2 linked regions of the Homo sapiens genome follow. The protein of the gene in region 2 purifies or fractionates together with the protein of the main gene of each other region. This does not show direct contact. Each region holds a gene or a part of one and is shown on either strand. Other genes may lie near its edges.

Region 1 (3,500 bases), on a different chromosome or scaffold from region 2:
TGTAGAATTTTATATAAATGAAATCATATTGTATATACTCTTGTTTTGGTATACCTTTTTTCCACTCAACATCGTTATTTCATTCTGTATCTACTGAGCTGATCGTGTCTTTTCATTTTCAGTCTGTTAATAGGGTGGATTACATTGATTTTTGTAAATGTTAAACTAATCTTGCATTCCTGGGATAAACTCCATTTGGTCGTAGCGTATTCTTTTTATATATTGTTGAACTGAATTCACTAAATTTTTGTTTAAAATCTTTGCATCTGTGTTCATGAAGGATTTCAGTCTGTAGTTTTCTTGTTATATCTTTGTTTAATATGAGATGGGAAGTGTACTGTCCTTTTCTCTTTTCTGGAAGTGTTTGTGTAGTGTTGGTGTTAAACTTCATTACATGTTTGGCAGAATTTACCAGTAATACTTTTTTAGCTGTTTTTATTTTATATTTTACTTTTCTCCTTACCTAGTTTGATAGTGGCAAGGATATGATATGTGAAAGATGCAAGACCTTCCATTGTAGCTTTTCTACCCTTAGTAGGATTTATATTGTATTTAAAGAATAATTCACATAAAGGCTGGGCACGGTACCTCATGGCTGTAATCCCAGCACTTTGGGAGGCCAAGGCGGGTGGATCACTTGAGGTCAGGAGTTTGAGATCAGCCTGGCCAACATGATGAAACCCCATCTCTACTAAAAATACAAAAATTAGCCAGGTGTGGTGGCAGGTGCCTGTAATCCCAATTGCTCAGGAGGCTGAGGCACAAGAATCGCTAGAACCCGGGAGGCGGAGGTTGCAGTGAGCCAAGATCATGTCACAGCACTCCAGACTGGGCAACAGAGCAAGACTCTATCTCAAAAAAAAAAAATGGTAATAATAATTCAAATAAAATGTCAATAGTGATTATCTCTGTGGAGTCAAGCTTTAAAAAAAAAATCCAAAACACCAAACCTAATTTAATTTTAAAAATAAAGGTGGGCCGGGTGTGGTGGCTGACGCCTGTAATCCCAGCATTTTGGGAGGCTGAGGTGGGTGGATCACCTAAGGTCAGGAGTTCAAGACAAGCCTGGCCAACATGGCAAAACCCCGTCTCTACTAAAAATACAAAAATTAGCTGGGCGTGATGTTGGGCGCTTGCAATCCCAGCTACTCTGGAAGCTGAGGCAGGAGAATAGCTTGAACCTGGGAGGTAGAGGTTGCAGTGAGTTGAGATTGTGCCACTGCACTCCAGCCTGGGCGACAAGAGGGAAACTCTCAAAAAAATAAATAGGCTGGGCATGGTGGCTAACACCTGTAATCCCAGCACTTTGGGAGGCTGAGGTAGGTGGATTGCCTGAGGTCAGCAGTTCGAGACCAGCCTGGCCAACATGGTGAAACCCCGTCTCTATTAAAAATACAAAAATTAGCCGGGCATGGTGGCGCATGTCTGTAATCCCAGTTACCCAGGAGGCTGAGGCAGGAGAATCGCTTGAACCCAGGAGGTGGAGGTTGCAGTGAGCCAAGATCGTGCCACTGCACTCCAGCCTGGGCAACAGAGTGAGAGACTGTCTCAAAAAATAAAATAAAATAAAAAATATTTTGGCCAGGCGCAGTGGCTCATGCCTGTAATCCCAAGACTTTGGGAGGCTGAGACTTGAGTCCAGGAGTTTGAGACCAGCCTGGACAACATAGTGAGACTTTGTCTCTATTTGAAGAAAAATAAAATAAAAGTGATTTGATCATTCCACTGGAACATAGCACTTTGGTCTTCCGGCTTTACAAAATATATCCATTGTATATATATTTTTTTAAGTGACTTGATCAGTCCTCAGTATCCAGGACTATAGGTCATACTGATAATGTTTTGAGATTGGATAGTTCTCTCCTCTATGTTACTTATGAGGTCCTTTCCAGGACCTCATTAAACTACATAAGTAATAGAGGCTTGACATAATAGAGGACCTTATTAAACCTCATAAGTAATAGAGACTTGAAGGGTGATATGGTTTGGCTCTGTGTCCCCACCCAAATCTCATGTTGAATTGTGATCTTCAGTCTTGGAGGAGAAGCCTGGTGGGAGGTGACTGGATCATGGGGGTGGATTTCGTCTTGCTGTTCTCATGAGATCTGGTTGTTTGAAAGTGTATAGCACTTCCTTCTTTGCTCTCTCCCCTTCCTACTCCAGCCATGTAGAATGTTTGGGCTTCCCCTTCACCTTTTGCCGTGATTGTAAGTTTCCCGAGGCCTCCCCAGCCATACCTCCTGTACAGCCTGTGGAACTGTGACCCAATTAAACCTCTTTTCTTTATAAAGTATCTAGTCTCAGGTAGTTCTTTATAGCAATATGAGAATGAACTAATAGAAAGGGCTCTGCCTTCCTAATAACTTACTGATTGTAATTTCCTGATCTTAGACCTACAGGCCACCTTTTCCTTACTCTTTAGTTCAACTTATTTCTCCTTTGATGATAGACAGTGCTTGGGAAACTCCTTTGACCATGACACCAGTAAGCCCCACTGCAGCACACTGCAACTAACCTAGGTAGTCTAGAGACTCACCTAGTACCAGAAACTGGTTAGTCACACTCTATTTTTGGGACAGGGTTGTGTTTGGCCTGCTATATTCAGGGTAGACTGTGCCACAGAAAGCAACAATTCTTGGTATGTGACAAATCTGAAACCATGAAACCATGATTGTAAGTTTCCCGAGGCCTCCCCAGCCATACCTCCTGTACAGCCTGTGGAACTGTGAGCCAATTAAACTTCTTTTCTTTATAAAGTATCTAGTCTCAGGTAGTTCTTTATAGCAATATGAGAATGGACTAATACAAAGGGCTCTGCCTTCCTAATAACTTACTGATTGGTCATGTTACATGTTAGTCAGGCTGGTCTTGAACTCCTGACCCCGTGACCTGCCCGCTTCAGCCTCCCAAAGTGCTGGGATTACAGGCGTGAGCCATTGCACCCAGCCCAAAAGATTTTTAAAACAAAATGTGTGATATAGTAATATATATGCTTCTTTATTAACACATTATATAATGTGTCTAATATCTATGATGATTGTAAAGTAATGATGAGCATAAATGATATTTTGAGATATCTGCAAACTAGCATAATAGAAAGGTTTTTTTTTTTCATTTCTATTGTTCACAAAGTCCCAGGTCCTATAATACTGCTACAATTTATTTCCTGTGTTCATAATGAAAAGAAATGCTGTATTTTAATAGGAGATTGGTGAAAAGAAATTTGTATTTTTTTCCCTGTCCAAATTCATGGACTCTGAATTCTCTTTATGGATGCCTTGGGGATCCTTAGACTTGAGGTTAAGAATTTCTGCATTAAAAACTTCCTTCCCTAGTGGCAAAAGATGGTAGAAGGCCAGCCTCAGAAGTATCCTTGTGCCTGAAGGACTGACTATTCCAAGGGAAGTGAGGTAGACTAACCCCACTACATACATACATACATACATACATATATGTATATATATATATATTTTTTTTTTTTTTTTTTTTTTGAGACAGAG
Region 2 (5,699 bases):
TCATATCACATCTATTAAATTTGACTCATGAAATTTTGTTTCAGTTACAGCAGCAGGAATGTGAGCACCAGCTGTATTGCAAAATATTCTTATAGTGGGTTGTTGCCAAAAAAGTTTGAAAGTCTTATACACATATATCTCCCCCATTAGACACGATGATTCTCTAGGGCAGCTGCTGAGATTTATTCATTTTTCTAACTCCAGTGCCTAGTGCAATGCCCAACACATGGCAAGCGGGCAGTAAATGTCCTGTCAATGAATCAAAGAGTTGGAAAACCAAAATTGCAGGAGATGGAGAAATGGGACTCTTAGTGATATGAAGACACGTCTTCCGTTTCTTGTTTGACAGCAAAAGTAAATAAACTGAGTCAAAAATTGTTGCAGATGATGTGGTTTTGACATGTGTTGACAATGACTGAAAATGTGTTTGTTGATAATCCATTTCAAACTGTTTCCATGGAAAGCCACCAGCCACTCAATGAACACCTCTTCAGTAAAGGTGCCGTGCGCAGTATTGTGCTGGGGGCCAAGTGGCAGCCAACAGAAGCTCTGAGTCAGGCTGCTTCTCCCCAGCCATGTGAGCTTCGTAGTTTATCCAGGCCCTTCTAGTCCACCCAGAATGTGGTCTGTGAGGAGGGGCATTGGTCACTGAGGAGCTTGTTGGAAATGCCAACTCTCAGGCCCCAGCCTAGACTTACAGACCCAGGATCTGCATTTTACCAACAGCCTCAAGTGATTTGACTGCATGTTCAATTTTGAGTAGTATGCATGGAAACCTTCCTGAGATTCTTTCCCTCACATATAAAATAAGAGTAACTATTACAATTCACTCACTGAGGGTTAAATGAGAGCATGTATGTGAAACTGCCTGGCACTATAGTTTGCTTTCGTTTCTAGAATGTGCGGAAAACAGCACATACATACAAGTATGCTGTGAAGATGAAAATGTGGTAAGAGGTCAAAACAGTTTTTGTGTACAGTGAAGAGTCTTTTATTTTTGAATATGATAATGTATAGAAAGTATGACAAATTCCTATCTCAAGAAAGAAACCTAGAGCTCAGAGGGGTAAATAAAAGGAATATACCAAACCAATGCTATGTGGCATCTCAAGTGCCCAGTACTGACCAGAAGTGCAGCAAGAAGAGATGAAAATGGGCTGAAGCGGGACGGAAAGGATCTGACTTACTAGGGGTGCTGGTGGTGAGGACACTCCTCACTGGCTCAAGCAAAGGCAAGAAAGGAAGGCTCAGGACCACCTCTGGGAAGCAGTAAGACCAGTAAGGCTGCAGTGAAAGGTGTAAGCTGGCAGGGGCCGTGCCTGAAAGAGGAAGCTTTATCACCTCATCACCTCTCCAATGCTCTAGCTAAAACAGAAATGATTCTGGGCTGTTAAATGCTTTACCACACTGCCTTGCCTTTGGTCTTGGTGGATGGGAGAAGGCAGATAAGGCTCACAGGTGTCAAGGACAAGCCTGTGTGGCAGTCCACTGCGGCAAGGCCAGACTGGTGAGGCCACACAGACACCTTCTGCAGCCCTTCCTGTTCTTCTTGGAAACCAATGATCCCCAAAAACAGTTATTTGGTGAGACAAAATCTTAAAGGAAATTAGGAAGAAAGCATTATTGTACCAAAAATAGTCTTAGGGGGTTAAAAATGGCTTGAAGTGTAAGCAGGGACTTACCTTCCTAATGGGGGAGAGTTACTAACTTTTTCGCTGGTAGGTAACTTCTCTTTTGCTAATTTTTGGCGATTTCTAGGAGAAACTGTGTCTGGGCTGCCAAGTTTGGATGTTGCACGTGCAGATGGCTTGCTATGTTGCTTTCTGAAACAGATTATAGAAACACTGGGCAATGGTAGCACTGAATACTCCAGTCCCTGGAACTCTGTAGGAAGTATGAGGCTCCTTGTGGGCAAGTCAGAACAATAGGAACTAAAATCAGAAAAATGGTTGGTTTTCCTGACCACTGCTGATAAGTCGATCTTAATGTCATCTACAACTACCTCTGCTTGTGTGACACTATCTTTGTTCTTACTGTGCATGATATTTTATTGTGATTTAGAAAAAAGATGTATCTGCGAAAAATAGAAAATATACTGGCCGACAAAATAAAGATTACAAAAGAGCTCATCAGGGTAGAATAAAGGGCCAAGATTAACGAAAGTACAATTCACAAGGCTAAGTGTTAAGGCCCAAGTAGTCAACTGCACAAGAATCAGATAAGGAATTCTGATTCCAGTAAAAACTCTGAAAAAGGAACTTGTTTAGCTGGTGTATTTTTCAATTTGAGGCTCAGTAATGAGGATGCACACTGAAGAACAATATCCAGAAAATAAGGTAGAACAGTCCTCTTCTGGATTCATTAGACCACACTTGGTATACAGAGTTTGCTTCTATCTATCTGTCTGTCTGTCTGTCTGTCTGTCTATCTATCTATCTATCTATCTATCTATCTTTCTTTCTTTCTTTCTTTCTTTTGAGAAAGAGCCTCTATCTATCTATCTTTCTTTCTTTCTTTCTTTTGAGAAAGAGCCTCGCTCTGTCACCCAGGCTGGAGTGCAGTGGTACAATCTCTTCTCACTGCAACCTCCACTTCCCGGGTTCAAGCAATTCTCCTGCCTCAGCTGCCCAAGTAGCTAGGATTACAGGAGTCTGCCACAATGCTCGGCTACTTTTTGTACTTTTAGTAGAGATGAGGTTTCACCATATTGGCAAGGCTGGTCTTGAACACCCGGCCTTAAGTGAGCCACCAGCCTTGGACTCCCAAAGTGCTGGGATTACAGGCGTGAGCCACTGTGCGTGGCCTCTTTTATATTTTATTAATTTAATTTAATTTTTTCTTTTAAGAGGGTCTTGCTATGTTGCTTAGGCTGGTCTCGAACTCCCAGCCTCAAGCAATCTTCCTGCCTCAGCCTCCTGAGTAGCTGGGATTACAGGCATGAGCCACTGCGCCCAGCTGCACATTTGCTTCTAAAAGAGGATAAAGGTAACTGATGAGCACAAACAGGGATGATGAAGGGGCTCAATAAGCAAGCAGAGAAGACCTGGAAGCTGCCCTCAAATATGTAAGGCAAAATTAGACAGAAGGTTCTGAAAGTCGAACTAGAATCAAGAGTAGAAGCCACAGGGAGGCCGGCTTCTACTGAACACAAGTCAGAGAATGCTAAGGAGGATGTGGCTTTCCCTGCCACTGAGGTCCATGCAAAAGCAGGAAGACCCTTTCAGAGGAGCTGCAGGTGCAGTGACTCAGGCACTGACTGGCTATTGGTACTACATGACCACTGAGAGCCCACCCAACTCAGACAATTTGTAAAATTATGAAGACACCAGAGCCCTGGGACTGATCAACCAATGCCAAGGAATCTAAACTAGAGAGAAAACAACTCATTTGTAAATCAAAAGTTTATATTATAAAGTGCATGAAGGAAGAGCTTTGATAATCCAGGTGATTACAGAACCATATAAATCAAATAAGATTTATTTTTAAAGAATTTATAAAAGGCAAATCTGAGAGCAATTTCTAGACACTCACTCGAAGATGGCTAGAAGGCCTATGGAACTTTCTCTGAGTTGAGCCCTACTTTCCACAACTGTTTTAAAGGGAAGCAGTAATTCTGGTGGGATGGATGCTATACCCAAATGCATGGGTGTTGGGCTCCAGCACCCTCACCCTCTCCTAGCAGCAGCAATTTGGATTCTGTGACTTCTTTTCTATTTATGTGAGCTGCTCCACCTAAAAAAACAAATATGAGACCACCTTATAACTTTAGCCGTGTGAGCTTCTAGAGTCCTTTGGCTCTAAAATCTGATTCTTTGAGAAATCAAACCATGGCACAAATGGCTAATACTGTGTTAAGTCTGGAGGAATTAGAAACAGATTGATTTTAAGTTTTTGTTTTTTTTTGTTTTTTTTTTTTGAGACGGGGAGTCTCACTCTGTCACCCAGGCTGGAGTGCAATGGCGTGATCTCGGCTCACTGCAACCTCCACCTCCCGAGTTCAAGCGATTCTCCTGCCTCAGCTTCCCAAGTAGCTGGGATTACTGGCACGTGCCACCACACCCAGCTAATTTTTTATATTTTTAGTAGAGATGGGGTTTCACCATATTGGCCAGGCTGGTCTCGAACTCCTGACCTCGTGATCCGCCGGCCTCAGCCTCCCAAAGTGCTGGGATTACAGGTGTGAGCCACTGTGCCCAGCCCCGATTTTAGTTCTTTATGTAAACACAAGATACTATTATATTATGCTGTTAGTGTTATTTTTGAAATAAATCTTCCTGAACTTTTTGATCAATCTTGAATAATGAAATTAAACAAGATGATACCAAGATTAATAGCTTGTAAATCACATTAATTAAAAATTAAAAAAATATATATTTTTTCAGAGACAGAGTCTCACTGTCACCCAGGCTAGAGTGCAGTGGTGCGATCACAGCTCACTGCAGCCTCAAGCTCCTGGGCTCAAGCGATCCTCCCATCTCAGCCTCCCAAGTAGCCGGGACTACAGGTGCATGCCACCATGCCCAGCTAATTTTCTAATTTTTTTGTAGAGATGGGGTCTCCCTGTGTTGCCCAGGCTGGTCTCATAAACTCCTGGGCTCAAGTGATCCTCCCATCTTGGTCTCCCAAAGTGTTGGGATTACAAGCATGAGCTACCGTGCTCAGCCTGGAAAATATTCATGTTTGGGAAAGTGATTAACGGTTAGGATGAGACAATACAGTTATGTACCATTTCTCAAATGTGCCATGGGGAAAGGAACACTGGATGATGTGAACAGGTATAATGATATAGGCCAACAACAGAAAAGTGGTATCAGCAAATAATGCTTGTTTAAACAAAGTTCAACAGGCTTCTTTCCTTTAGGAGTTTGCCAAACCCTTTTTTTTTTTTTTTTTTTTTTTTTTGAGATGGAGTCTTGCTCTAACACCAGGCTGGAGTGCAGTGGAGCCATCTCAGCTCACTGCAACCTCCGCCTCCCACGGTTAAGCAATTCCCCTGCCTCAGCCTCCCGAGTAGCTGGGATTACAGGCACTCACCACCATGCCTGGCTGATTTTTGTATTTTAGTAGAGACGGGGTTTCACCATGTTGACCAGGATGGTCTCGATCTCCGGACCTCGTGATTCGCCTGCCTTGGCCTCCCAAAGTGCTGGGATTACAGGCGTGAGTCACCGCGCCCAGCCCTGGAGTTTGCCAAACCCTTAATATTTTAATGAACATGTAACTGAGGAAGGAGAGAGAATTCAATGACATTCCCAAACTCATCTGACCGTGGTACTCTTTTTCTCAGAGGTTTCTGGCTACAATAGGGTTTGAGAGAACACATTTTGGGAAATATATGAAATTACCTCAAAAATGGTCAAATTTGGGCACTTTCCTATGATCAACCTATTGCATAGCACTGGTGAGATGCATGTGATGACGGTGCGTGGGCCTGGTTCCTCCTGCTTTCTGGGTTGAATTAAGTATGCTGAGAGCAGGGATGATGTTTTATGTATGTCCATATTCATGAATGGTGCTCAATACGACATCTGAAGGATGGCAGATGCTCAAAAAATATATTTGTAAGGAATTGAATGGGTTCCACCAAATAGGCATTTAAAACCTGGTAAAGACTTTGAGGCAATCCCCCAAAATGGTTTAGGACAGAAAATGTGTTCTCCAAGAACTATGTGCCCACTGCTAACAATAAAAATGAAAGG

What was found. Proteins that work in one complex are often made in the same cells at the same time.
Region 1: the proteins of BOD1L1 (region 2) and KIFBP fractionate together in Homo sapiens (co-fractionation; one large-scale study listed by BioGRID). This does not show direct contact.

Annotation. Positions count from the first base shown.
Region 1 is NC_000010.11:68,995,303-68,998,802, forward strand, and holds part of KIFBP (KIF-binding protein), read left to right. Parts: intron 1-3,500. UniProt on the Homo sapiens protein: Activator of KIF1B plus-end-directed microtubule motor activity. Required for organization of axonal microtubules, and axonal outgrowth and maintenance during peripheral and central nervous system development.
Region 2 is NC_000004.12:13,571,020-13,576,718, forward strand, and holds part of BOD1L1 (biorientation of chromosomes in cell division protein 1-like 1), read right to left. Parts: intron 1,824-5,699; coding exon of another isoform or gene 1,683-1,823; intron 1-1,682. UniProt on the Homo sapiens protein: Component of the fork protection machinery required to protect stalled/damaged replication forks from uncontrolled DNA2-dependent resection.